Homo sapiens: one gene and its partners. The protein of the gene in region 3 purifies or fractionates together with the protein of the main gene of each other region. This does not show direct contact. Each region holds a gene or a part of one and is shown on either strand. Other genes may lie near its edges.

Region 1 (6,351 bases), on a different chromosome or scaffold from region 3:
ATGGCCAACAGGTATATAAAAAAATGCTCAACATCATTAATCATCAGGGAAACGTAAACCAAATCACAATGAGATTATCTCACACTTCTTAGAATGACTAATTTCAAAGAAAATAAATGTTGGTGAGTATGTAAATTATTATAGCCATTATGGAGAAGCATATGGAGGTTATTCAAAAACTTAAAAAGAGTACCGTGACCCAGCAATCCTACTGCTAAGTATTTTCCCAAAGGAAACGACATGAATATATGGAAGAGATACCCACACTCCTGTGTTTCTTAAGAGCACTTTTACAACAGTCAAGATACGGAATCAACCTACGTGGTCTAGAAGCAAAGTGATAAAGGGATAAAGTGGATAAATGGCTTAAGAAAATGTGGTGTATACACATCATGGAATACTATTTGGCCATAAAAAAGGAAACCCTGCCATTTGCAACATGGGTGAATTTACAGGACATTTATATTAAGTGAAATAAGCCAGGAACAGGACAAATATCACATGATCTCACTTATATGTGGAATCAAAATGTTGATTTATAGAATTAGAGAGTAGAACGGTGGTTAGCAGGGGCTGAGACAAGAGGATTTGGGGAAATTCTAGTCAGAGGGTACAGAGTCCCTGCTATACAAGAATAAACTCAAGGTCTATTGCACAGCATGGTGACTTCAGCTGATAACCGTGTACTGTACGCAGTTGGCCCTCTGTATCTGACTGTCCCACATATGTGCAGAGGGAGGGCTGACTGCAGGGTACTTGAGTATCTGCAGATTTTGGTATCCATGAGGGGGTCCTGGAACCAATCCCCCTTAGGCACAGAGGGATGACTGTATTTGAAATTGCTGAGTGTAGATTTCAAATATTCTCACCACCAAAAAAAACATGAGATGGATACATTAATCTGTCACTCCACAATGTACATAGATATCAAAACATCACACTGTGCCCCATAAATATATAATTTTCTTAAATAGAAAGAGGTTGTGATTGACAGGGTGGGATGTTGCTGGTCAGCTAGGTTAGGTGAGGATGGTGAAGCCACTGTCGGACCTGGTGATGTGGAGACACTGATGTTGTGGGAGACTCTGCCATCAGGACCTGTCCGGGCAAGCATCACAGGTGTGCAGGGCAGGGGCAGGGATGCTCAGGGATGACAGCAGACTGCAGCAGGCGGAGACAGTGAGAAAGACAAACTGGAGGTCTCAGGGTCGGGATGTTGTTGGCGTGCTGACAAAGATTCTCTACTTGGCCAAACTCTGGCCAGGCTCTGGAATCTTCTCCTAGGGCCCTCTTTGCCCTTTCTTATGAAATCCAGTTTTAGCAAGAACCCTAATTTGGTTAACCATAATATCTGACCACCCTCAATGGTACCTGACTGGGTTCCTCTCTGACCGTTTGCAGCCAATGTCTGATCGCCCTGCCTGCCTGCAGCAAGGACTCTGTGAGGTGGGTTTAGCCAGAGCCCCCTCAGCCCTGATGTCTCCTCACAGTCATTCCCACCCATGGACCCTATACTGCTCCTCGCTCCTCCAACCCCTGCCCTGCTACGTCGGGGTGGAGCCCCATCTCCCCCCAGGCCCCAAGGAAAGGGTCCCACACCCATCTCAATGGTCCCAATCAAAGTCCTCCTCACCATGCTTTAGCACGTGTCACGAGGAAGTTTCCTTTGACACTGGAGGGTGGCCAGGGCAGGGGGAAGAGGCCAGGTGGACACACGGAGACGAAGCAAACGAGCTGACACAAACCCACTTTATTCAGCATTGAGCCAGCCCACACGCTGGGCAGGTCAAACTCACAGACATCGCACCAAGGGCCGGGGACTCAGAAGGGCTGAAAGGCTTCATCTGGAAATGGGCACCGCTCACAAGCCCGGCTATCCCCAAATCTCAACAACTGTCTGCATCTATGTCCCCGACTTTGCAATCCTGTCCCCAGTGCTGAGTTTCTGTCGACTAATTTATCTACACACAAGGATGCTGCAGGCAACTGAGCTACTGCTACAAGCTTTGCAAAATTCAACTACTAAAGGAAATGGGAGGAGGGAAAGAGCTAGAGATAACAGCAAGATGAGACACGATGGCAGGGCCTGGAGATGCTAAATGGGGTTAGCCACCTGCCAGCCCCCTCACCCAGGGAAACAGAGAAAGAGGCTTCCTTCTGCGGAGGCAGGTGGAGCACAGGGAGGGCTCCTGGGAGGCACAGGAGTGGGGTGGGGGCCAGGAAGGGGGAGGTGGACAGAGCGACTTGGATAAGGCTGGGCCGGGCCCACGCCCACCTCAAGAGGGGGGCCGCCTCCTCAGGAGGCATCAAGGTGCAATCCAGTCTTCCTTTCTCTCCCTGAAGACCTGAGTTCCAGCCTTCACAGAGCGTCATGCGCATTCTTCTTTCTGGATGCTAACCCCAAATCCGACACTCAATGGTGCACCTCAGGTACCTGCCAAGGATCTGTGGGCCCACATGGAAGGTGCAGGGTCTGGGTCCCTGGATGACGAGGTGAGGGGCAGATGGGTGACCAGGGAAGGGCATGACCCAGAGCTGCCGGGACTCATGGAGGATGGGCTGTGGCTAGGACTTCAGGAAGGGACGGGCACAGGTGGGAAGGGTCCTCAGGTCCAGCCTCTACCGGGAGGTGTTTGCAGCCCCCAAAACACGCCTCGGGGTGAAGGATAAATGGACATTGTTGAAACACGCAACTATGTAGATGGACCCAAGGCCAGGCGCCTGCCACGCTTCCCTGGCAGCCACACGCTGACACTTCCCATGGAGATGAGGATCCATCCTCCTGCCTCCAGCTCTGGGACTGCCACGGGTTGGCGCCATCACTGCATGGGAGGGGAGAGGGAAAGACAGAGAGACAAAAAGAGAAAGAGACACACAGAGTCAGAGACAGAGGCAAAAGGAGAGAGCGAAAGAGAGAGCGCACATGAGACAGCGCATGAGGTACTGTCCTGAGCACAACAAACCCAGGGCCTGGCCCAGACTTCCGTCTCCCCAGGGCCAAAGCCTTGTCACCTATGGCTGGCACGGGCAACTGAACCGTTCAGGGCCATCTGGGTTGCTGCAGGGTCTGGGGTTCAGGCCAGGCCCTGGGCAGAGGCAGAAGAAAAGCCCTGAGGTTGGGTTTCTTGGCTGCTTCTGCCTTCAGGACCCCAGGGCGAGGCAGGAGCCTTCCATGCTCGGGCACTCGGGATGCCAAGTGCCCTCCTTTGTGAAGGTCAGGGACACCTCAGACCCTCCTCAACTTAAAACCCCTTCCCATCACCTTCCCTGACCACCCACCCATTCCCGAAATTCAGCCCTGCAAGGCCACGGCAGTGGGAGTCAGGCTGGGCTTTTAAGCCTTGACTTCGGGCAATGGTCCCCCAATGGCTCGCTGCTGCCTGCGTCCACCCTGGCCCGATGGTGGGCAGACCCAGCGGGGCTCCCGCACCTGCAGCAGCATGCTGAGGCCCAGGTTGCGATGCTTCTTCTCCAGCTCCGAGACCGCCTGCAGCAGTGACCTGAACCGCTCAGTGGGGTCAGCCAGCTCGTCCTCAGGGAGCCCCTCCTCCTTCTCAGCCTCCTGCAGGAAATGCTCCTCCTCCTCCACAAAGAAGGCCCGCAGCTTCTTGTAGTCGGTCAGTGCCTTCTTCCTACGGTCCATCACGTGTCCCTGCAAACGGGTGGCAGGAAAAGACCTGTGTCCTCACCCACCCTCCCCAGGGGAAGGGGAACCTGTTTGCTCTTGAAGGAGTTAAGAACATGCCACTCCAAAACATGCTGCTCAGGCACATCGACTATTAGGCCAGGCACAGTGGCTCACGCTTGTAATCCCAGCACTCCAGGAGGCCAAGGCGGGCGGATCATGAGGTCAGGAGTTCAAGACCAGCCTGACCAACATGGTGAAACCCCGTCTCTACTAAAAATACAAAAATGAGCCAGGCGTGGTGGCACGCCTGTAATCCCAGCTAATCGGGAGGCTGAGGCAGGTGAATCACTTGAATCCAGGAGGCGGAGGTTGCAGTGAGCCCGAGTTCATGCTACTGCACTCCAGCCTGGGCGACAGAGCGAGACTCCATCTCAAAAAAAAAAAAAAAAAAAAAAAAAGCCAGGCACGGGGGCTCACGCCTATAATCCCAGCACTTTGGGAGGCTGAGGCAGACAGAACATGAGGTCCGGAGATTAAGACCATCCTGGCCAACCTGCTGAAACCCCATCTCTACTACAAATATAAAAATTAGCTGGGCGTGGTGGCGCACGCCTGTAGTCCCAGCTACTTGGGAGGCTGAAGCAGGAGAATCGCTTGAACCTGGGAGGCAGAGGTTGCGGTGAGCCAAAAAAAAACAAAAAACAAAAAAAAAAACAATAACAGAAGAGGCCTGGCACGGTGCCTCATGCCTGTAATCACAGTACTTTGGGAGGCTGAGGTGGGAGGATTGCTTGAGCCCAGGAGTTCGAGACTAGCCTGGGCAACAGTGAAAACCTGTCTCTACTAAAAATCAAAAACATTAGCCAGGCATAGTGGTGCACACCTATGGTCCCAGCAACTCGGGAGGCTGAGGTAAGACGATCGCTTGAGCCCAGGAGTTTGAGGCTGCAGTGAGCTATGACCATACCACTGCACTCCAGCCTGGGCCAACAGAGCAAGGCCTTTTTTAAAAAAAATCAAAAAACAGTGCAAGATCACCCTGACCTCCATTCTGCTTCTTAAAAGCAAATGAAATTCCCAAGTGAAAGACGCCCTCCCCATATCAAATAAAATGATTTTATCATCAAGGACGACAGGAAGTCAAGGCCGACAGAATTTGGTACAGACCTTGTGAAAACAACTCTTTCAAGCATCCCCACATCATGTAGTTGCTTTTTTACAAGTGGCTAGTCTTTGTCCAAGTCAGTATATAAGTGATTTAATTTTGCCACTTTGAGTCTTCATTTCATTATAAGGGAGCCTGTGCTGTATAAAACTTGTGTTAAATTAATATGCCTGGCTGGACACGGTGGCTCACACCTGTAATCCCAGCACTTTGGGAGGCCGAGGTGGTTGGATCACTTGAGGTCAGGAGTTCAAGACCAGCCTGGCCAACATGGTGAAACCCCATCTCCACTAAAAATACAAGATTAGCCAGGCGTGGTGGTGCACACCTGTAGTCGCAGTTACTCGGGAGGCTGAGGCAGGAGAACCACTTGAACCAAGGAGGTGGAGGATGCAGTGAGGCAAGATCGCACCACTGCACTCCAGCCTGGGCAACAGAGCAAGACTCCATCTCAAAAAAAAAAAATCCTATGTTTTTTCTCCCATTAACCCATCTCCCTTTATTTTTTTTTTTTTTTTTTTTTTGAGATAGGGCCTCACTCTGTCACCCATGTTGGAGTGCAGTGGTGCCATCACAGTTCACTGCAGCCTCAACCTCTTGGGCTTAAGTGATCCTCCCACCTCAGCCTCCCAAGTAGCTGGGACCACAGATGCAACACCATACCTGGCTAATTTATTAATTTTTGTACAGATGGTGGTCTCACTATGTTACCCAGGCTGGTCTCGAACTCCTAGCCTCAAGCAATCCTCCTACACCTCAGCCTCCCAAGTTGCTGGGATTACAGGCATGAACCACTGCACCTGACCCTGTTAGTTTAGCTTATGTCAGTTTAATTCTCCCGCCCAGCCTGGGGCCCTAAAAGGGGAGAAATAGAGTTCTTTCTCCCCTACACTGCAGTGCTCAGCTGCACAGGAAGACTGTCCCTCTCCCATCTCCCATGGCCAAGGGGACAGTAAATCCTTGAGTGGCCCTGCTAGGTCTAGAGCCTGTCAGGCACGTGACTGTCAGGGCAGGACACACACCCATCTTGCCAGCAACTGTCCCTGCTGTGCCCACACCAGAACTCCAATGGCTGAAAACCATCCCATCAGCCTTCAACAAACAGCATTCACACTTGCCACTCTTCAGCTGGTTTTCAGCCAACTCCTAACCTTGCAAACAGGAGAGCAGAGCAGGATGCTACTCTGATTTTACTCAGTCATGGATGGCTTCCACCTGGCCCTGGGCCACACAGGGCAGGTGACACCCATAGTCATGAGGGGCCAAGGCTTTTGTTGCTGAGAATGCAAATGACAGCTGGGTGTCTGCTGGCTGGCTGATGCAACACGCTGCAAACTCCTTCCTTTGGATTTAGGTGGCTTCTCTCATCCCAGCATCTAAGCCACAAACCCCCAAAACAGGACAGATTGAAAGCTCCAACCTGCTAAAATCTGTGGGCAAAACAATTCCCTTGGGGTAACACAGGGTTACTGAAAACTTGGAGGTCCCCAAAGCCTTCCAGCCTCACTTGCACTGGGCAGTGTTGACCACTCACAAGGCAAGGAGAAGTTCAGAGCAG
Region 2 (5,456 bases), on a different chromosome or scaffold from region 3:
TCCTGTTCGCGCCACTCCTGCTTGCTTTCTTCTCCCCTTCCCTCCAGCGGTGGTTCCAAACCTTCTCTTCCATAAGACCCTCCATTCCGTTTCCCAGAGACCCAGGGGTGCCCCTCGCAGGGGCAGAGGCGCAGCCTGTAGTGGATCTCCCTCCGCGCAGGGCGGGCAGTCTAAGGTCATTCCCGGTCACCCTGCCCCCTCGCTCCCATTGGCTCTGGGGAGGGCACGTGACTCAATCCTGGCCAATGGCGTGGCGGGGCCTGTGGCTTGCTGCCGGGCAGGCTTTTCTAGGAGCTTCTGGGGTAACGCCAGAGAAACCTGCTAACACACAAGGTTAGCTGAGAGTGAGCTCAGTGAGCTTTCCCTTTGAAGAAGGCGTGGGTGAAGGGGAGAAGGTTCAGGAGAAATCAAGGGGTCAGGAGTAGTTCACTCAGTCCCCTTTCACTCTGAAGGAGCTCACCTCTCCCCAGTACTGTCCAGTGGAAAGGCCACTCAAAGCAACTGAGAGAGACCTGCTTGTGTGAAGAGGTAGAGGTTTATTGAAATATAAACATTCGAGAACATGTAAGATAGAAAATAACCACAACATATAGACACTTGCTGCAGGAGGACATCTGAGGTATTTACTCACTGCCTAGGCTACCCATGTGCTATCACATTTTTCCTGGTTAGAATACATATAAGATGGAGAGCAGGAGGGGACAGAGCTGCCCTGGCTGATGGCACCTTCAGGGGAAGCTCTGCTTGGGCCAAGGCCCCACTCGTGGGGGCACCTGCTGGCACCCCTCATCGGGCTCTGGGTGACACCCTGCTGTTGTCCTTGAGGGCAGTGAGGGTTCACTCCAACGGTGTGGCCAGGCGAGCTGCCTGGGGAAAGGGAGAGGATCCAATGACCGGAAAGACACAGTGTGCTTTCCCTGCATCCTCTGGGTGGGAAGAGTCCATCCTTTGTGACCAAACCCCTGAGAAAGACATACTGGCCAAATGTCTGAGACACCTTCAAATGGGCCCAGTGCCAGCCAACTGGGCTCCTCACTGGCACCACGTCCCAGATGCCCTTCTCTGCCCACACCCTGCAGGCTGAGGCCAGAGGAGGTCAGCCCTCGGGAGATGGGGTATGTGTGTGTGTGTGTGTATGTGTGTGGGAGTGGGGGTGAGTGTGTGTGGAGGGCTGAGAGAAGACGCAGTTGAGCAGAGCTGCAGCTTACCGGGCTGAGGTATCTGTTTGTGCTCAAGCTTTTGATTCCCTTTCCTCTCCTACACAGGACTGAATGCGAGCCACGCTGCCACACACACCCACGCCACGCGCGGTGTCTCCCACTGCCACAGCCCCATGTCACAGTGGTGGTGTTCTGCTGAACATTCCAGGGCTTCCTCGACTGAGGTGAGCCGCAAGCGAATCAATTTTCTTTACAGCACAGGAGCTGCCTGCTCCCGCGCAGGGTCCAGGAGGAGCTGTGGAGTTATTCATCTCCTCATACCCTGGGGCGGCTCAACCTCTGGCAAGGCCAGCGAGGACCCCAGCCTGCCTGTGCCCTGAGCTGGGAATGCTGAGTGATGGGGAGGTGTCCTCTGCCTCCCTGGTCAGCTGGGGGTGGGGGTGTGGCAGAAAACGGTCTTCAGAACTGGTACAGTTTCAGGGCCCGACCCGGTGTGAGAGCGGGCCTCTCCACTCCACCTCCCCGCCCCCGCGATCCCTGAGTCGTCTCCCCTGCATGCCTCCACCCACCTCCTCACTGGGCTTGAGGGAAGGGCCAGAGGGGCCGGGTTACCCAATCACTTGCTTGGCTTTGGGGGTGATCTGTTTTCATTTCTTTGGTGCTACGATAAAAATTTTAAAATAAAAAAAAAACAAAAGTCAGCAAAACACATATAAAAAAGATTTCAGAGATGCAAATACTTCCTGAAGACTCAAACATCAACAATTACAAATCTGAGGTATTTCAATGAACCTGACATCGGCACGTGTGGGGATGGTGAGGCCAAGATGGCCCCATAAGAAATAGAAGAGGGCTGAGCTGAAGAAGGCTGAAGAAGGCTGGGGAGGACTGGGGAGGGCTGAAGAGGGCTGGGGAAAGGATGAGTGGGCTGTTTTTGGGAAAGCAGGCCAATAAGGGCAAGTGGGGAGCATGAGGTTTGGCGGGGGCGGTCAGAGAATGGTCCGTGTGAAGCAGGTGCCAGGGCTGGGCAGCCCCGAGGCTCTGCCTTCCCATCAGCAGATGCCCTGTGGGCCCTGGCCCTGAACTGCCCTCACAGCCTCTTCCTTCAGACTATTAGAAGGGGGATCTGGGGCCCTGAGGACTGATTCAAGACTTGTGTTTGAGGGACCCGTACCCCAGGAACCTAACAGTAGGCAAAGTGGGCTGGAAGGGCCCCATCCCATGCTCTGCAGAGAAGGGCATGAAGGCATGCTCTTGGCTCCTGGCAGCCCCACATGGGACTTAAAAACAGGGGAAGAGACTAGTGGCCCTGGGGTCATGGCAGAAGGCAGGGTCAGGGAAATAAATTAAAAGGGGAGGGAAATGGAGGGCCTCCAGCCCTGCGTCGGCTGACAGATTGTCGATACACTGTGCCCTGAGCTGGGAGGTGGCTGGGGAACCCTGGAGGAAGCTGGACACCCACAGACCCCCACCCAGTTCTCCAGGACAATCCCTGATTGGACAACGCTGTCTGTCCTGCCCCTCTAGCCTCTCCCTGCCCCCAGAGTACAGCAGGACCTGAATGGAGCCTGGACAGACGGACACGTCCAAACTCTCAATGTCTGGCCAAATGGTGCTCGTCGACGTGGGCTCTGTGAGATGAGGTAAATTCTGTGCATCAACTTCCTTCACTCTCGACAGGAGAGTGGCAAGTGGGAAGCTGGGTCCTGCCCATCAGAGGGACCAGCTGGTGGAGGGCTCTGCGCTGGGGGTGCCCCGGGATGAGGTAGGACTTGGTGAACAGTGAGAGCTGCTGCTGCTGCTGGCGCTGCTGCCGAGGCTCTGGGGAGCAGACCCCGTGATGAGGTGGACCACAGGCTTCTGGGCAAACAGCACACCTTGGTGGGTGGAAGAGAAGCAAGTGTGGGCAGAGGAAGAGCGAAGGGGAGGGCCAGCTCCTTTCAGTAAGTATTCACCGCTGGCCTAGCCTGTGCCTGACTCCGCTGTAGACACTGTGCTAGGGGGTGATGGGAGAAGATCCAAATGCTGTCCTGCCTTGAAGTGCTGATGGGCTGGGGAGGGGGACAGATAGGTCGACAGAGTAATTTTGCTAAAATGTCATAAATGCTCTGAGACAAGGTGTACCCAGGGTACACAAAGAGGAACACCAAGGCCAGGTGTGGTGGCTCACAACTATAATCCCAGCACTTTGGGAGGGTGAGGCAGGAGAATAGCTCAAGGCCAGGAGTTTGAGACCAGACTGGGCAATACAGCAAGAGCCTTGTCTCTATAAAAATTTTTTTTAAAATTAGCTGGGCATGGGTAGTCCCAGCTACTCAGGGGGCTGAGGCAGGAGGATCACTTGAGCCCAGGAGGTTGAAGCTGCAGTGAGCTATGACCGCACCAATGCACTCCAGCCTGGGTGACAGAGCCAGGTGGGGTGGGTGACTGGCTCCCTTCTTGTCAGGGGTTTGAGGAGCCTTCAACTTCTGACCCTTCCTCATTCTGAGAGGGAAGGAGTTACCTTCTCCTTTCTCCTTGACAGAGGACAAAAGGATATCAAGATCCAGGCCTTGAATTCCTACTTCCCTGCTTTCTCCATGGACCTAATTCCAACCCCCAACCCTCCCAAACCACAGCACAATGAAGAGGCAAAGGGCACCAGGCCCCACCTCCTCCAGGGGCCTCCTGTGACAGGTAGAGACCTCTGAGCAGAGTCTGCAGACATAGCATGACTGGTGAGCCCACTTGGCACCACTGCTCCTCTACACTCTGTCCTCTCTCTGAAGTGAGTGGCCCAGCAGAGATCCAGAGCATGCTCCCAGGAGGCCTGCAGGGCGGTGCTCTGAGGGAGTGTGGCCCTTAGAATGGGAGTAGGCCCTGAGGAAACACTCCCAGTTGTGATAGAAGGTGCAGTTGTAGGGCTTTCGCCTGTCTCCACGAGACACCTTGCCAGGCTGGCTGACACTCCGCATGCCCTTGGGCCCTTGGTAAAACAGGTGGGTGATGCCCTGGGCCAGGCCTGGTGGCCCCCACTCATAATACTGTGCTTTTTTTTTTTGAGACGGAGTCTCACTCTGTCGCCCAGGCTGGAGTGCAGTGGCGCGATCTCAGCTCACTGCAAGCTCTGCCTCCCAGGTTCACGCCATTCTCCTGCCTCAGCCTCCCGAGTAGCTGGGACTACAGGCACCCGCCCCCACGCCTGGCTAACTTTTTGTATTTTTAGTAGAGACGGGGTTTCACTGTGTTAGCCAGGATGGTCTCGATATCCTGACTTCGTGATCCACCCGCCTTGGCCTCCCAAAATGCTGGGATTACAGGCGTGAGCCACCGCGCCCAGCAATGCTGTGCTTAACAAGAGTCAGGTGGGCTTGTTCCCAAGCTCGTCCGTAAACCAATGAAATGGGAATGGGAAAAGGACTGCTGTTTTTATGAATATTAAGTTTTGTTTTTTTTTTTTTTAATTGAGACAAGGTCTTGCTTTGTCACTCAGGCTGGAATGCAGTGGTACAATCACGGCTTACTGCAGCCTCGACCTCCTGGGCTCAAGTGATCCTCCTGGCCTCAGCCTCCCAAGTAGCTGGGACCACAGGTGTGCACCACCATGCCTGGCTATTTTTTTTTGTATTTTGTAGATTTGGGATTTTGCTATGTTGCTCAGGCTGGTCTCAAACTCCTGGGCTCAAGTGGTCCTCTTGCCTCAGCCTCCCAAAGTGCAAGGATTACAGGCATCAGCCACCGTGCCCAGTCATGAATACTAAGTTAAACCCTTAGAAAGACTCTGTAAAGGTGCGAAATCAACCAACCAACAAAACACTGTTGCCAAATTAGGTTTAGGAAAAGATAACTGTAAAAGACTGGGGGGCAGGGAGCTTAACAATGTAAGCTGATTCTCCTATACTGGGGTTCCTTTGCCTGTGTCTCAGTCTGCAAAAGGAAGAGAAGAGCTGAATTACAGTCAGAGAAAGGCTGTGCATGAGAAGACCTGGGGATTGTGGGACACTGACTGACTTCTTCAATTAACGAGCCAACCACTGGTCTAAAAGGGTTAGGTGAAGGGTTTCTGCCAAAGTGGGAGGGACCTATCATCCTGTTAACAATCCACAGTCTACTAGTCCAGAGGACCACTTGACCTTTGCAACTCTGAGACCAGGAAAAAGGAAGCCACTGTGGGAGGTGTTCAGACAGAGGGTAAGAGGCAGGGCCAGCCGCAGAGCTGCCCTGTGGCTAGCTGCGGCCACGTGGGCCTCCCCCAGAGCTCCAGGGCCTCACCTGCATAGGTGGTGCCATCGATGTCCACAGACATGTTAATGCTCC
Region 3 (2,920 bases):
TAAAGATGAGGAAACAGGCTCAGAGAGGTGCAGTGAGTTGCCCAAGGTCCCACAGCAAGTCAGTTGACAGAGCCAGGATTTAAACTCAGATCTGGGCCCTGAGTCCACCCTTCTTCTCTGTGCCTTTGAGGTTCTCTGGGGGGCAGCAGGGTGGGGCAGGCCCCCAGCTCAGCCACCTCCCATGCCCTCCTCTTGCAGGTCATCCTTTTTCAGTACTAACGCTGCCGGCACTTCCGCATCTGCCCGTGGGCGCCCCACAGCTGCCCCTCAGCCGCTGAGATCCAGTGTCCAAGCTGCGGCCAGGAGTCCACCCACCTCCGCATCCACCCCCGTCCGCCATCCTGCCCACCACCAGGTCGGTTCCCGAGGCCTGGCCTTTCCCTCTCCTGCTGAGAACCAGAACCCACCAGGAGCACCACAGAGTCCTCCTCTTGGAAGGCAGAACTCCCTGAAATCTGGAATCAGGGTGGAAACAGCCTGTTTTTCCCATTTAAACAGGAGTCCTCTTCAACTTCAGCTGATTACAATAACAAAAGGCGGAATTGAATTGTGCGATGCCAACGGCCTTCTCATTTACAGGTTTTTTTCCCCCACATTGGCCTTTATTTACTACTTCCTTGGAACCATCTCTGAATTCTGAATAGCTGACAACCCCCAATGTTATCCACTCTGTTGCTTTTGTCTGGAAAACTCTACAGTGTTTGTGGGATGTCCCCAAAGGAAAGCTATGTTCTAATTTTATCATTTCCATCTGTCTGGTTATGTCAAGTTAATTCAGAAAGAGAAGAGACAGTGACCAACCCTGAGAGGCCTAATAGGGCAGAGATGGAGGCCTGCCCAGACTAGGAGGCAGCGGGGATAGACAGGGAATGGGGAGAAGAAAGACCCCCATTGGTTTGGAAATCAAGGAGAGGGCGGTGACATATTGGACCAGAAGAGGCACTAGCCATTTTAAGGAGAGGAAAGAGAAAACTCTGGGGTCAGGGAGAGACCCTACCCCCACCTAATTATCCAGCATATATGTAAGAAACATAGCAGCGATGGTATTCGATCTGTGCCATGACTCTTCTGAATGTTTGGACAGGTTAGAGTTGGGGACCCCTGTTGGCCACTTGTTGACCTCTCATAGTGGTGCTTGGGCCAGGTCTTCTCAATGGAAGGGGAATCCCTTATAGGGGAGAGGGAACAGAGCCCAGTGAAATGGCAGTCAGAATGTTAACCCTGGATCCATCTCTAAGTAGAGAGAGGGTGCCCATTGCCTAGGTGAGTGTGCCAAGCTCAGGATTCCAACTGGTGCCTCTGAGCTTCCCAATCAATACTTCCTGGAGCCAGCCCCACCCACCCCTGAGAACAGAGGTCAGACACAGCTGCGTAACATCCATCCTGCTACAACTCTTCCACCCCAAACAAAAGGGCTCAGGCTACACACGACCATGATTTATGTTTTCAGGGGATGCCCATTTGTCCCAAGCTTATCCTGTAATTCTAGAATTACCTGGTGTCCTGATGCATTTTCCACTAGAGGTTGCTAATCAGCATGTTTTAGCCCAAGTCCGCCTTCCTGCTGTGGTTAACCTGTTATGTTGCTTTTGGAAGGAGACTCTAAGACAGGGAAAGCAAGTTCATGGTACATACGCAGCCATTGTCTCTGTTTTTACCCATGGCAGACATTGCTAATCAATGGCAGCTCTATTTCACTGAGTCTGGATAAGGTTTCAGAGTTCAAATGCTTGACGTTGGCACTTAACATGAAAGCCTATAGGTCATTCTTGCTCTGGGATCTACAGGCAGGGTAGGCACAGGTGCAGCCTAAGAAGGGAACCTGCTTCCTCTCCCTTCCAAAGACAGTGACAGCTGACTGAGGGCAAAGAGCAGGCACCACTCAGAACGTGGTGAGTACAGCTCAGCTCAGCACTCAGTCAGTGGTAACTTGTGCCCAGCCCTGTGCTAGGCGCTGACATTAACAGGAGCAACCAGGGCCCAATTCCTGGCCTTGGAGCTCAAATCTTTCCTTTGATTTTTGCTCCTGATCATCAAGGCCCCAGTGGCAACCATGTGGTAAGTGGCCAACCAAGCCCTACCCAGGGTCACCCAACACACTCTGCCTTGAGCCTCTCCTCAGGGTCTATTCCTTGCGTGGATTATGTGGCCGTAGCATGTTACAGTTCAAACATGTCTCCACTACCCTGTTAAGAGCAGCCTGGGAACGTACAGGCCATCAAGACTATTTATTTAAATACAAAAAAAGGGGAAAACACACACACGGAAAAAAAATTGTAAGCACTTTTTTTGTAAAACCAATGTCTGTTTTGTTACATACCTTTCATGTCGTGCTTTGTAAATGTCTTATTTGTGTAATAAAGTTAATGCAAGTAGAAGTGCTGGCACTGAAATCCAGAACATGATGGGATTCCATTTCTTTCCTGCTCTCTGGTGAAGGGCTTAGGTCCCTGGCTCCCAGAATATGTGGGCTGCTGGACAGTGTAATCCTCCTTCCTGGGAAACGGGTACCATTTCCCAGTTAGTAAACAATGGATTGTGGAGGCCTGACGATGGGTTTCTTCTGTAAGTACTCAGTCACACCTGCTTCTTATCTAAGCTTTGGAGGAAATCAGGCTGCTTGATGCCCTCTGTTCCAGTCTCTGAACATACACTCTCTGCTGGGCCCTGTGCTGGCTCTGCACACTGAGAAAAGGCTCCCAGCCAGACCTTGTCCTGGAGGAGCTCTCAGTCTGGCAAATACTGTGGGAGCCAAGGGGGTGGGTGTTAAAGCTGGATCCTATCAGATGAGAAGGTCACAGAATAGGTAAGCAAGAGGGTGGGGCAGGGAGGGAGGTGCAGAGGAGCGTGTTTGGAAGATGGGGAAGAATTTAATAAGGTGAAGTTAAGGGAATATGGAACGGGCAGCAGGGCCCCAGGT

Evidence for each region.
Region 1: the proteins of LHX6 (region 3) and RNF187 purify together in Homo sapiens (affinity purification with mass spectrometry; 3 studies listed by BioGRID and IntAct, with this or other methods). This does not show direct contact.
Region 2: the proteins of LHX6 (region 3) and ARID3B purify together in Homo sapiens (affinity purification with mass spectrometry; 3 studies listed by BioGRID and IntAct, with this or other methods). This does not show direct contact.

The regions. Positions count from the first base shown.
Region 1 is NC_000001.11:228,490,354-228,496,704, reverse strand, and holds the end of RNF187 (E3 ubiquitin-protein ligase RNF187), read right to left. Parts: intron 3,653-6,351; coding exon 3,431-3,652; intron 2,823-3,430; coding exon 2,820-2,822; 3' UTR 517-2,819; downstream 1-516.
Region 2 is NC_000015.10:74,593,192-74,598,647, reverse strand, and holds the end of ARID3B (AT-rich interactive domain-containing protein 3B), read right to left. Parts: coding exon 5,412-5,456; intron 3,038-5,411; coding exon 2,874-3,037; 3' UTR 517-2,873; downstream 1-516. UniProt on the Homo sapiens protein: Transcription factor which may be involved in neuroblastoma growth and malignant transformation. Favors nuclear targeting of ARID3A.
Region 3 is NC_000009.12:122,202,059-122,204,978, reverse strand, and holds the end of LHX6 (LIM/homeobox protein Lhx6), read left to right. Parts: intron 1-198; coding exon 199-219; coding exon of another isoform or gene 220-278; 3' UTR 279-2,397; downstream 2,398-2,920. UniProt on the Homo sapiens protein: Probable transcription factor required for the expression of a subset of genes involved in interneurons migration and development.